3 linked regions of the Homo sapiens genome follow. The protein of the gene in region 2 purifies or fractionates together with the protein of the main gene of each other region. This does not show direct contact. Each region holds a gene or a part of one and is shown on either strand. Other genes may lie near its edges. The genes, in order: SLC10A4, FZD3 and NUMBL.

Region 1 (3,834 bases), on a different chromosome or scaffold from region 2:
CTTTTATTAATATGAAAAGTAGAGAGTTCTTTTCTGTGCATATATCCAGGCTTGAGTAAAAGAAATCCTGCTCCATAATACACATGTATATGTGAATGTAAAAATGTATGTGTACATGTAAATATGCATATATTAATACCTGTAATATATACTCATAGATACTCTTGAGATGCATTAAGAACTTGTTAATCTTAATCATTAAGCTAATGCTATTAATGTGATGGCATTTACTATAAAACCTTAGGAAGTCTAAGAGAAAGTCAATCAAATGACCTATTTACACACCCAAAACAAGAAATATATTTAAAATAAATATATTAATAAATTAATATATTTAATATTTAAATATAATAGACATAAGATTAGCTACCTTTGAATTTAAGGTTAACCTAGCCCTATTCTTTAATTAACACACTATTAAGAAACGGTTTATATAATTGTTACACCTTTGCAAACACTTCAAAATGAGCATTCAATGTCAATGCTTGCCCAAATGATTTAAAATAGTTCTAAGGGACTTTGGAGCCAATATTTCAAAATGAAGAAATCAGACTGTTTGTCAGCGCTTTCAATGTGACATACTTTGAAATGGTATGCTTTTACATGTAATAGCCTGGTTTCTGCCAATTATGCATCTGTAGTATCTGTACCTTATATAATAATTATTGCAGCATCCTCTAGGGTAGAATTTGTGACCAGCTCAGATAAATTTTAAATAATTTTTTAAGAGTGTAGAGTTACGCCATTCCCGAAGACTGCAAAAGGGATATCCCAGCTATCCAGGGAACCAGAAGCAACATTTAAGCTGTTCTCTCTGGCTCTAGTTTCCTTTCCCTGCCCACTCCTCATTAAAAAAAAATAAGTTAACTACCAATATGAAGGAGAACGAGGAGAGGAATTTTTAGATTTCCGCCTTACAATTCATACAGACTGTTTTATTTGAATGAGTGAAATGTACCAGTCAGAACATCAAGATGACACGTTTTATACAGAAGTCAGTTGTACTGTATCCGAAATCCATCTATTGTAATAATACGTAAGCATCATTACAGACTTATAGATGGGAGGTTTCTCATGAACAAATAAAAAAGGGGAAAGTTGCCAAATTGCAAAGAATTCTTCACATATTTATTTACATTTTTCTCTCTTACATAATCTAAGAGTAGGTAATTGTTTCAATATTGCAAGCAATCCTCTGCAGTATATTTTGAGGGTTAAAAAGATCACACACTGAGCTTCAGACATTTTAATCAAGTTTCACAAGTTTTAACTCATGTAAAATGAGAACTAATTTCTTATGGAAAACACGGGGTTCAGTTCAGGGAAAGTAAACATCCACTTGTCTGCTCTGATGATCAGACCATACCTGGGGTATTAGGTTCAGTTCTAAATGCCCTGTTTTTAAGAGGCACATTCACATATGAAACACATTCTCAGAACAGTCAGGATACCAAAACAAAGTTATGTGATGGAGGTTTAAGTTTGGGGATGATCTGCCTGAAGAAGAGTAGCCTTCCCCTGATAACCAGTTTTTAAGCTTTTGAAGAGCTGTTTTTCAGGAAAAAAGCTTTTGAAGGCTATTTTTTTTTGAAGAGCTTTTTTTTTTTTTTTTTTTTTTTTTTTTTTTGGTGAAATGGAGTGTTGCTCTGTCACCCAGGCTGGAGTGCAGTGGCGCGATCTCTGCTCACTGCAACCTCCACCTCCCAGGTTCAAGCAATTCTCTGCCTCAGCATCCCGAGTAGCTGGGATTACAGGCATTCACCATCACACCTGGCTAATTTTTGTATTTTTAGTAGAGACAGTGTTTCACCATCTTGGCCAGCCTGGTCTTCAACTCCTGACCTCATGATCCACCCACCTTAGCCTCCCAAAGTGCTGGGATTACAGGTGTGAGCCACCGCGCCTGGCCAGAAAAGCTGGGTTTTTTTGTTTGTTTTTTGTTTTTGAAGAGCTGGTCTCTGTCGCTCCTGAGAGCCTATATCCAACTCAATGGCTAGAGGTTATAGAAGGCAAATTGTCCCTGGACATAAGGACAGGCCTCCAAACAATCAGAGCTGCCCAATGTGGCTCTGGATGCTTCCTGAAGAGGTGGCCTGCCCATCTTCAGAAATATTCTGTCAAAGGTCTCCATTTTGTGTTGGAGAGCATACTAGATGGGTGTTTTCTTCCGTGAGCTTAGGATTCTCTCGCCTGAGTTCATCTTCAACCATCTCATTGTAATTTTCTATTACTAGGTTTCCCTGTGGTCTCTGCTAGTGACTCTGGTGGTCCTTTTCATAATGACCGGCACTATGTTAGGACCTGAACTGCTGGCAAGTATCCCTGCAGCTGTTTATGTGATAGCAATTTTTATGCCTTTGGCAGGCTACGCTTCAGGTTATGGTTTAGCTACTCTCTTCCATCTTCCACCCAACTGCAAGAGGACTGTATGTCTGGAAACAGGTAGTCAGAATGTGCAGCTCTGTACAGCCATTCTAAAACTGGCCTTTCCACCGCAATTCATAGGAAGCATGTACATGTTTCCTTTGCTGTATGCACTTTTCCAGTCTGCAGAAGCGGGGATTTTTGTTTTAATCTATAAAATGTATGGAAGTGAAATGTTGCACAAGCGAGATCCTCTAGATGAAGATGAAGATACAGATATTTCTTATAAAAAACTAAAAGAAGAGGAAATGGCAGACACTTCCTATGGCACAGTGAAAGCAGAAAATATAATAATGATGGAAACCGCTCAGACTTCTCTCTAAATGTGGAGATACACAGGAGCTTCTATCTTGCTGAAATATTGCTTCATATTTATAGCCTGTGGTAGTGCACATGGTTAACATAAAAGATAACACTGGTTCACATCATACATGTAACAATTCTGATCTTTTTAAGGTTCACTGGTGTATTAACCAAACGTTGTCACAAATTACAAATCAATGCTGTAATATAATTTGCACCTGGAATGGCTAACGTGAAGCCTGAATTAAATGTGGTTTTTAGTTTTTACCATCACCAATTTCTATGACTGTTGCAAATACAGAATCTATTAGAAAACAGGGTCTTGGAAATGTAGAATTTTGGCGCACTATGAGGAAAAACAAGCTATCTTTGTAAAGCATAATTGAGTTTAATGTAATTGTTGTAAAAAAAAAAGTGTGCTTGCTCTACTTAAAATTCCTCACAATGTTGAATTTTGACCTGTATTCAGAAGAATTCCAAAACAGGTCAGTTAAATAAGGAAATATAGTATTTGTCAAACCAGTATCAGAGAAAAGTTACATTAATGTATTTGATTACTTGATCTGGTATCTACTTATTAATGAATAATCAACATTTTTCTAGTGGACAAGCCATGTTCTTTTCGACTGGTCTTCTGCATTTATGTAAACACACCCCAAATCAATTTATCTTTTGTAGGAATGATTTGGTTGGGAAATTTTTCAGAACCGCTCTGGAGCAGAACAAAACGGTACCTCCCGGTCACCACTGGGACTGGGGGAAGGGACACGCTCCAGGGGAGAAAACAATTCGCCTAGATGAAGATCCCTGGGTGGTTCTCCATGCACTCGCCGAGGGGGCTCAGTGGGTAGCCTCTTAGAGCAGCTCTGAGAATAAACTTATCATCTGAGTTAACGGGTAATAGACCCAGAACAGTTCCCAAACCTTGGCACTTTCGCTCACTTAGCCAGAGGCACCCGGCCTGGCCTCGGCTTCCCGGTGAGGGAGCGGGGGTGGGGGGGATGCGCAGGCACCTGGAACAATCAGGGCACCGGGAGAAGCCGGCTCAGCTGATGCCGGTGATGAGTTTCTCTCATTGAAATCCTCCTCACCTCGGGCGCCTTGGTT
Region 2 (3,650 bases):
TGTTTTAAGCCTTAATCACTTAACACATTGGAAGATTAAGTTATTTGTTGTAATCAGTAGATGATGACAAATGGACTTTAAACATTAGATGAAGCAGGAAAGTTCAGAAAAGAGATACTCTGAGATTAATAGGAATCTAGGTCCTGTGAATTAAATATGAAGCTATATAAACTTTCTTGTAGCAACCAGTAGGCAAAGGGCCAAAGACTATATAGACTTTAAGAGAAGGAAAGTAACATTTGAGCAATGAGTGTACACTGAGTGTATATTTTGTCTAACAAGACAATAATTTCCTTAAGAAGCTCTTATTTAGAGATAGTTATTGCTAATCCTTGCAATGCGTTCTTGAAAACGTGTCTGAAAAAAGACAAAGAATATCCCTCCTGTTCGCTCTGTAGGCACTGTGTAACCAGCATTTACTTTGAAACAACCTTTAGATGATCTTTCTCAATTGGAAATGCAAAATGTTACCTGCATTTATCAGGTGTCAAGAAAATGAAATCTCAACAGAATGATGGAATGGAGCCCTTTCTGTAGAGAAAGTGTGAATTGGAATAGAGTTGCTGAACATAATCTTTTGTTGCAGAACCCCTTTGACAAGCCCTTAGGGCCCTCTTTTCTCATCATCCTTTCTTCTGGGATTCAGCCTGCTTTCCTCTTCACAGTTGCCACCTCCTGCGTTTCCCACCGAGTTCTTTGGGTCTGATTTTGCAGGCAGCCCGGGAAGACAGTCTTCCAAGATTGGAATCCCTTCCCTTTATTGCTGTCTTTCAGGACAAATACTTAGTTGATTTTATTTTAAAGACTTTTACTTTTTGTCATCAAAAGAAACCTGATAAATAATGGTTGGAAATATAAAATTCCTGATGTTATACATTCATAAAAATAGAAATGGGTAAGCTTTAAAGTATCTAGTCCTTTTTGTTTTCTGATGGAATGTTAACCAAGTAACTTAGTCCGAAATCAGCTTTCCAGATATTCTGTATTGCTCTATGGAGAAGTGAATGTGTCTCTTTTCCCATACAAAGGGCGTGAGCAACTGTTGCATAGCATTCACTTTTTGCAGGGCCCTGGCCCCTGAAGCTGCTCACTCCGATTATGTTAATCTAATAGGTCCCCCCCCTTTTTTTTTCCAGTTGATATACTACAGTTTCTTATAATAAAAAAAAAATCAGTAAGAACGCCCCAAATGACTGTTAACTTTTATTTAATGACTTGCTACATTTTGATAGGATCTCTTTGGGTCCAGAATCTTTGCTATGTCCTGCAAGTCTGGAACTTCAACTTACAGCTTTTCCATGGATGACCTTACCTTAGGAAAAATGGCATACTCACATAATTGTGATTAGAAGCAGATAATTCATTATGTTATTGAAGACATATTATTTGGAATGTTTATCAAAAGTTTTTATTTTTTTATTTTATTTAATTTTTTTGAGACAGTCTCACTCTGTCACCCAGGCTGGATGCAGTAGTACAGTCTCCACTCACCGCAACCTCCACCTCTCATGTTGAAGCAATTCTCAAGCCCCTCCTGAATAGCTGGGCCTACAGGCGCATGCCAGCTAATTTTTGTATTTTTAGTAGAGATGGGTTTTTGCCGTGTTGGCCAGGCTGGTCTCAAACTCCTGGCCTCAAATGATCTGCATGCCTTCGTCTCCCAAAATGCTTGGATTACAGGCGTGAGCCACTGTGCCCAGCCAGGAATGTTTATCAAAAGTTTTTAAATTGTGCATACCATTTGATTCAGTTGATTGGTTATCTGATTTTTTTAGTATTGAAAATCAGATTTTGACTCTTACTAAATTGATCATCACTGATTTGCTTTTCTTACTAGGTACAGTAGAGCAGTAGTGTATTCCTTGGCTTGTTGCTTAATTAGTAGTCAATAAACCAGTCATTTCACTAGTATTTTTTCTTGTCAGCCAGTCAGCACATATTTACAGATTTAGCAGAGTTAATTACTTCATACACAAAATAATGTACTATAGGTTCTTTCATAAAATTCCATAAAGCATTTAATATTTTATTTTTAAACAATCGAAATAGTTTTACTGTGTTACATGTACATATATATTTTCTGACAAAATGAGAGATATATACATATACTGTTTTGTAAACTGCCTTTAAATTTTATTTTTTATTTATTGTTACTATCTTACTGTATCCACAAATACAGGTTTATGCTCATCATTTTTAGTAACTATATAATATTCCATCATGTGGTTATACCATAATTTATTTAACCAATTTCTTATTGGTAGACTTTTCAGTTGTTACCAGCTTTTAGGGTTTTTTTTGTTATAAACAGTGTTACACTAATATTTTGGTTGTGCATCATGTGTACTTACGTGTTTACTTAGAATAATAAGATTTGCTGGATGAAATTGTGTACATTTTAAGGGCTTTTGATATAAGTAGCCACTTTTTTTTTTAAGTACCAACTAGTTTACTAATAACATTTGAAAATGTTGAAATATTGAAGGTGTTCTTTACCCTGTACTCCCACCCTATACTGTGTTCTATCATTATTGTTTTTTCCTATCTGGTTGGCAAAAAATCTTATCTCACATTTGCATTTTTTATTATTAGTGAAGTTGAATATCTTTTCATATGTTTCTTGGCTGTTTGTATTTCTTTTGTAAATTTATGTCCTTTGCTTATTTTTCTATTAAAATGTTATCCCCTATCTGCTTTTATTTTTAAAATTCATTTACTGTATATAATTACATAAACAATACCTTTATTCTTTTTAATTATTCTGTTCTAGGATAGCATTTCTCAAGACCTGACTTATGGAGCACTTGTAACCTGAGGTAATCATTAGAATGCATATCATTCTCCAGGATTCAGATTTCCAGGGGAATCCATGAATCTGCTACACTTTACGATTAGAGAACTGCTGTTTTGGGGGAAATGAAAATTCTTTAACACCTATACTTTACCTGTTTTCTTCATGTCTCACTGAATTCCACTGCTGTTTTTTCCCTTCTTTTAATAATCATAAACTGCAGTCTTGCTGTATCAAGATTCTTGTCCTTTCACAGCTTAACAGTAGATTTTACAAAAGCATCTTGGTACATGGTAATTTGAATGTCATAGTACATAAGGAAGCACTTTTATAAGAAGGTAGGATGCTTTACTTGCAAGTAAGGCAAAAGGAATAATCAAAAGGAAACCAGGTAAAATAGATGGAGTAGGCAGAAGTATAGGGGGACATTTCAGCTAGTTTTAAAGGCTCAGTGAGATATTGCTCAGTTTCTTCTTCAGGTTTTATGTGGTAGTCTTCTTTGAACCATTGATTTGAAACCCATACCTGCTTGAAAAATAGATTAGTTTAAATGAAATTTTTGAAATTCTTGTTGTTACTATATGCGTATTCAACAGGGAGTAATGTTCCCTTTAATTTTATTTAGTTGCAAGCAGATGAATATGCTGCATAAGTAATAAACTACAAAGACTGAACTTACATGGATGTTTTAATACTACAATCAAATAAAACTTTCAACAGTTACTTGACATATTTAGTGATATGCATAATTGTTACTGCGCTGCATGGTAATTAAGATAAATATGTTTTTAACTGTGGTTAATACCAGTTTTCTTTTTTTTTTCTGATGGAGTTTCGCTCTTGTTGCCCAGGCCTGGAG
Region 3 (4,329 bases), on a different chromosome or scaffold from region 2:
ACCTACCACCGCTACTGGGCCAGTCGCCAGCCAGACGCAGCCACTGCCGGCAGCCTCCCCACCAAAGGGGACTCCTGGGTGGATCCCTCATGACAGCCTCCATGGGGGATTCAGTCCCCAGAGCAGGCCGTACCCTGCTGTAGTGCCTCTTATCCCTTCCCCGTCTGCCCTGGGTCAGAGGAGCCCCCTTGGGCTTCCCAGTCTTGCCTGGCTCTCCTCCTTGGCCCAGGAGCTCAGGATCCCTGGGGCTGGGGAACTCCCAACTTCGTGCCCTAGATCCTGCACCTCCCCACTCGAAAGTGGGTATCCGAAAACTAAGCCAGGGAAGCGGTTAACTTATCTTTGCCAACATTTGAGGGAGCCTTGGGCCGCTGCATGTCGTTATGCAGATCAGACTCATCAGGGGGAGCCCTCACCTCTGCCTCAAGCCTCCCGTGGAAGGCGAGATGGTCCTGGAGGCAGTCCTCACCTCTGCCTCCCTCGCTCCTCCAACAGCTGCCTTCTCCCGGGTTCCAGCCTCTCAGTGTGTTGGAGAGGTAGGGGTGCGGGGTGGGGGGGAGCTGAATCTTCAATCGGAATAAAAGCAGCCCTCCCCTTCCCCCAGCTCTTTTCTCTGCGCTAGGGTTGGGGGGAGAGGGGGAGGAGCTCGCCAGCGGCCTCCAGGTGCAGATGGCCAGCCCCCCTGCACCCCCTTGTCTGAAAGCCTCAGCCCTGCCTGTGCCATCTGTTGCCGGGAACCTCCTTCTCGCCTTCCCCACCCCCCCCCACGTGCTGACCACCTGCTCTAAGGGCTGTGGCAGCTGAGGCCTCCCACACACACAGTGCCTCTTGGCTGCGGGCTCCCTCCCCTCACTCCTGGCAACCTCGCCTTTACTAATGGGCTCTAATGTCCCTGCCAGCTGCTTTGCCAAACCCACAGGATTGGCGTAGGGGGCGGCGGGGGCGCCGTAGCGGCCAGAACCGCGCCCTGGTCCCACCCCGGCGCCCCCGTTCCCAAAGCCGAACCGATCGCGCATCAGGACGCCTTGGTCTGTTCACACCCCCTCCCCTTCCTTGCAAAAAGTGCCTCGTCACCGCTCCTGCCCGCCCCCGCCGGGCTGGGGAACCATGGGGTTAGCGGGAAGATTTGGGGGTGTGGGGCGGCAAGGCGCCTCTAGAAGCAACTCTTTCGGACGCGGAGCTGGAGGGGATCTGAGGTCAGGTGTCACGGAGGGAAAGGGAGCCCAGGCCAGGACGGACCGGGGGAAAGGACTCGGCGATGTTCATAGGCATGCTCAGCTCGGGACTGGCCAATGGGCGTGGCGGGGCGGTGGCCGCGCCGGGGAAGGCGGGATGGTGTCTGCGTGTGGGCGGGGTCTTCAGGCCAAGGGGCGGGGCGGGGCGGGACCTTTCTGCATATACGGCAGGCGGCGGGCCAATGGGCGGGGTCGGGGCGGGGAGCCGAGGCCGAGGGACGCTCCCCCGCCCCCGGAACGGAATCCTCCCGGGAGCCGAGGAGGCTCGCGCGCGTGCATCCCGCACCATCCCCCGGCCCCGGGCCCTGGCCGGCGTCAGACCGAGCTGCCGCCGCCACCACCGCAGCAGCAGCAGTCGGGGAGCCAGGCCCAGCCAGGGCCGCGGGAGGCGGGGGCGCCCGGGCCCTGGATGTCCCGCAGCGCGGCGGCCAGCGTGAGAAGGGCGGGAGAGGGGGGCTCGGGTCGGGGGCGGCGCCGCTGCTGATGTGGCGGAGGGTGGGAGGCGGCCGCGGCGCCCGGATGGAGAGAGGGTGCCAAGGCTGGAGAGGGTGGTCCCGGGTGGGGGTCCAGGAACAGGCCCAACAAGCCAAAGCCCAGGAGACCGGGGTCTTGGGCACAGACCCCTGGGCCATCTCTTGCCAAGGCCCTGGAAATAGGGATCCTGGACACAGACCCCCCACAAAACCAAGGACAGGGGTACAGAGATTCTAGGTACAACTCCTAGAACTAGATGGGGATGGAGATGGGGTCGGGGACACAGCCCCCGTATCAAACCAAGGCCTCCAGGACGCGATTCCAGACACAATCCCTACCTCTCCCTGCCTAAGGGGGTCTCAGCACAACAACTGCCTAGGTACGGTCTCGAGGATGGGGTCACTGGGTACAGCGTTCCCACCACGCCAAGGCCTAGGGGGACTCCAAGCACAGCCTGCCCCCAGGTCTCAGAGGCACCCTGGGCACAGCATCCCCCCAATCCTTGGGCGGAGTCCCAGGCACAGCCACTTCTCAAAACAAGGTCCCTGTGCCTGGGACTCCACCCCACCCCAGCCTGAATAAAATAAGGACAATTTCAGGCAACCCCCAATCCCTCCACCCCCTGGCTTGGTCATGGGTCCCAGGGCACAGGATCCCTAGGCCACCCCCTTTGTCCCCAGGGCTGCCCAGCTGTCCAAGAGTGGCCCCACCCGCAGACAATGCACCGCTTCCCCCTCCTGGACCTGGCCCTCAGGCTCCAGGATACAGGCTGGGCTGGGGGCGGCTCCCCAGGGACCGGGTGCAGCCCTGTCTGTCTGCAGTGTCTGCGGTGACGGTGACGGCGGCTTTGTGTGTGGTACCTGGGGGGAAGGGGGGAAGCAAGCGATGGGGAGGTGGCTAGGAGTGTGCCCTGTGTTTGTGTGACTGTGGCTGTGTATGTGTGTGTGTGTGTGCACGCGTACGCTGCAGCTGGTGACTGAGGAATCCTGTGTCGTGTGTGTGTGCTTGTGGTGGTGTCTATGATTGTGTCTGTGACCCTAGTATCTGTGTGACTGTGTATGTGTGTGTGACAGCTGCTCACTGTGCAGAATCCTGTACTTTTTAGTCTGTCTGTGTTTGGAGGTGTGCATGGTTGTGACTGTGGTTGTCTGTGATTGTGTCTTTTGTGACCCTGTGTTTGTATGCCTCGGTAACTATAACTGGGTATGTGACAGTATGTGTTGAGTCTGGGGGTGGGCATGCGTGTGACTGACAGGACGTGGGTGGAGTTGTGACTGTGTGTGAGTGGAGTTGTCTATGGCTCCATGTGCATGTGTGACCCTCCCAGTGACTGACAATGTTTATAGTTGTGTCTCTACCTGATTTTATATACGTGAGTGACACACACCTGTCTGTGCAACTCTGCCTGTGTGACTGCCATTGTGTCTGAAGTCACATTGTATCTGTGTGACTGGGGTTGTGTGACAGTATTGTGTATGACAGTGGTTGCGTATGCAGAACCATGTCTGAGTGTGTGACTGAGGTTGTATTAATATAAATGACTGTATCTAGCAGTGTGTGTGATAACGAGTGATTGTGTGTATTTCTAGCCTTGCATGTGTGATTTGGGTTATGTATTTGACTTGGTGTCTGAAACCCTGGCTATTTAGAGGGATTATTTGTGTGTGACTAAAGCTGTGGATGTGTCTCCGTGCTGGTGCCAGGAAATTATGTTTGTAGGGGTGTGTATATGATTATGGCTTCCATATTATTGTGTTTGACCTGCATGTCTGACCCTGGGTGACTATAGATGTCTGTGTCTATGTCATCATCTGTGAGAGTGTGGGGTCTGTAGCTGTGTGCCTGTTTTTGTCTCTGTGTGTATGTGCTGGACTACCTGTGTTAGAATGTGTGATTTGGTGATGAGATTGGCCCCTGACTGTGCACATGGCTCCGTCAGGACCTGTGTCTTCTGTGTAAACCCAGCTATAAATGCCACATCCTGGTCACTGCATTTATGTGCATACACTGGACTGTGTACTTGTGACATGGGAAACTAAAACTGTGTGCTTATGTCTCTATGTGTGAGATATGTGTGTAGGTGGGGCTTGTGACTTTGTGCACCTGTCCACACGGGGCTGTGATTCTATATGGCCACATACTTGTCTGTGTGACTTGTGTGCCTGCATGAAGAAAGGCTATATGTTTCGCTGCATTGGAGTGACATGGTACAGCTGTGTATGGACACTGGGTGACGGGATTATGACCATGATAGGTGGCTGGGTCACATGGACATTGATGCTGTGGCCATGCCTATAGGACCACCATGGCTGTGTCTTGAGGGAGGCCATCCTTGGGGACAGTTGTTTGTGGGTGGTTGCATGCTGTGGCCATCAGTACCTCTGTATGTGGTTGTGTATAGAGGACTGTCCCTATGAGTGTGGCTGTCACAATAGACTGTGTGACTGATGCTGTGACCAGATTTGAGCACCTATGACTGAGTATGTGTGACCACGTGACAGTGTGTGGCCAAAAACAGTGTGTTGGTGTGACTGGTCTGGTTGAGGCTGCATGTGGTCTCCGTGGGACCAAATGTGTGTCTGTCCGTGTGCATCTGTGACCAGATGTCAGTGTGCAGCAG

The links.
Region 1: the proteins of FZD3 (region 2) and SLC10A4 fractionate together in Homo sapiens (co-fractionation; one large-scale study listed by BioGRID). This does not show direct contact.
Region 3: the proteins of FZD3 (region 2) and NUMBL fractionate together in Homo sapiens (co-fractionation; one large-scale study listed by BioGRID). This does not show direct contact.

The regions. Positions count from the first base shown.
Region 1 is NC_000004.12:48,486,193-48,490,026, forward strand, and holds the end of SLC10A4 (sodium/bile acid cotransporter 4), read left to right. Parts: intron 1-2,234; coding exon 2,235-2,747; 3' UTR 2,748-3,334; downstream 3,335-3,834. UniProt on the Homo sapiens protein: Transporter for bile acids.
Region 2 is NC_000008.11:28,497,163-28,500,812, forward strand, and holds part of FZD3 (frizzled-3 isoform 1 precursor), read left to right. Parts: intron 1-2,770; 5' UTR 2,771-2,816; intron 2,817-3,650. UniProt on the Homo sapiens protein: Receptor for Wnt proteins.
Region 3 is NC_000019.10:40,687,799-40,692,127, reverse strand, and holds the start of NUMBL (numb-like protein), read left to right. Parts: upstream 1-1,476; 5' UTR 1,477-1,644; coding exon 1,645-1,668; intron 1,669-1,963; exon of another isoform or gene 1,964-2,088; intron 2,089-4,329. Other genes in the region: COQ8B (atypical kinase COQ8B, mitochondrial), read left to right, coding at 1-93. UniProt on the Homo sapiens protein: Plays a role in the process of neurogenesis. Required throughout embryonic neurogenesis to maintain neural progenitor cells, also called radial glial cells (RGCs), by allowing their daughter cells to choose progenitor over neuronal cell fate.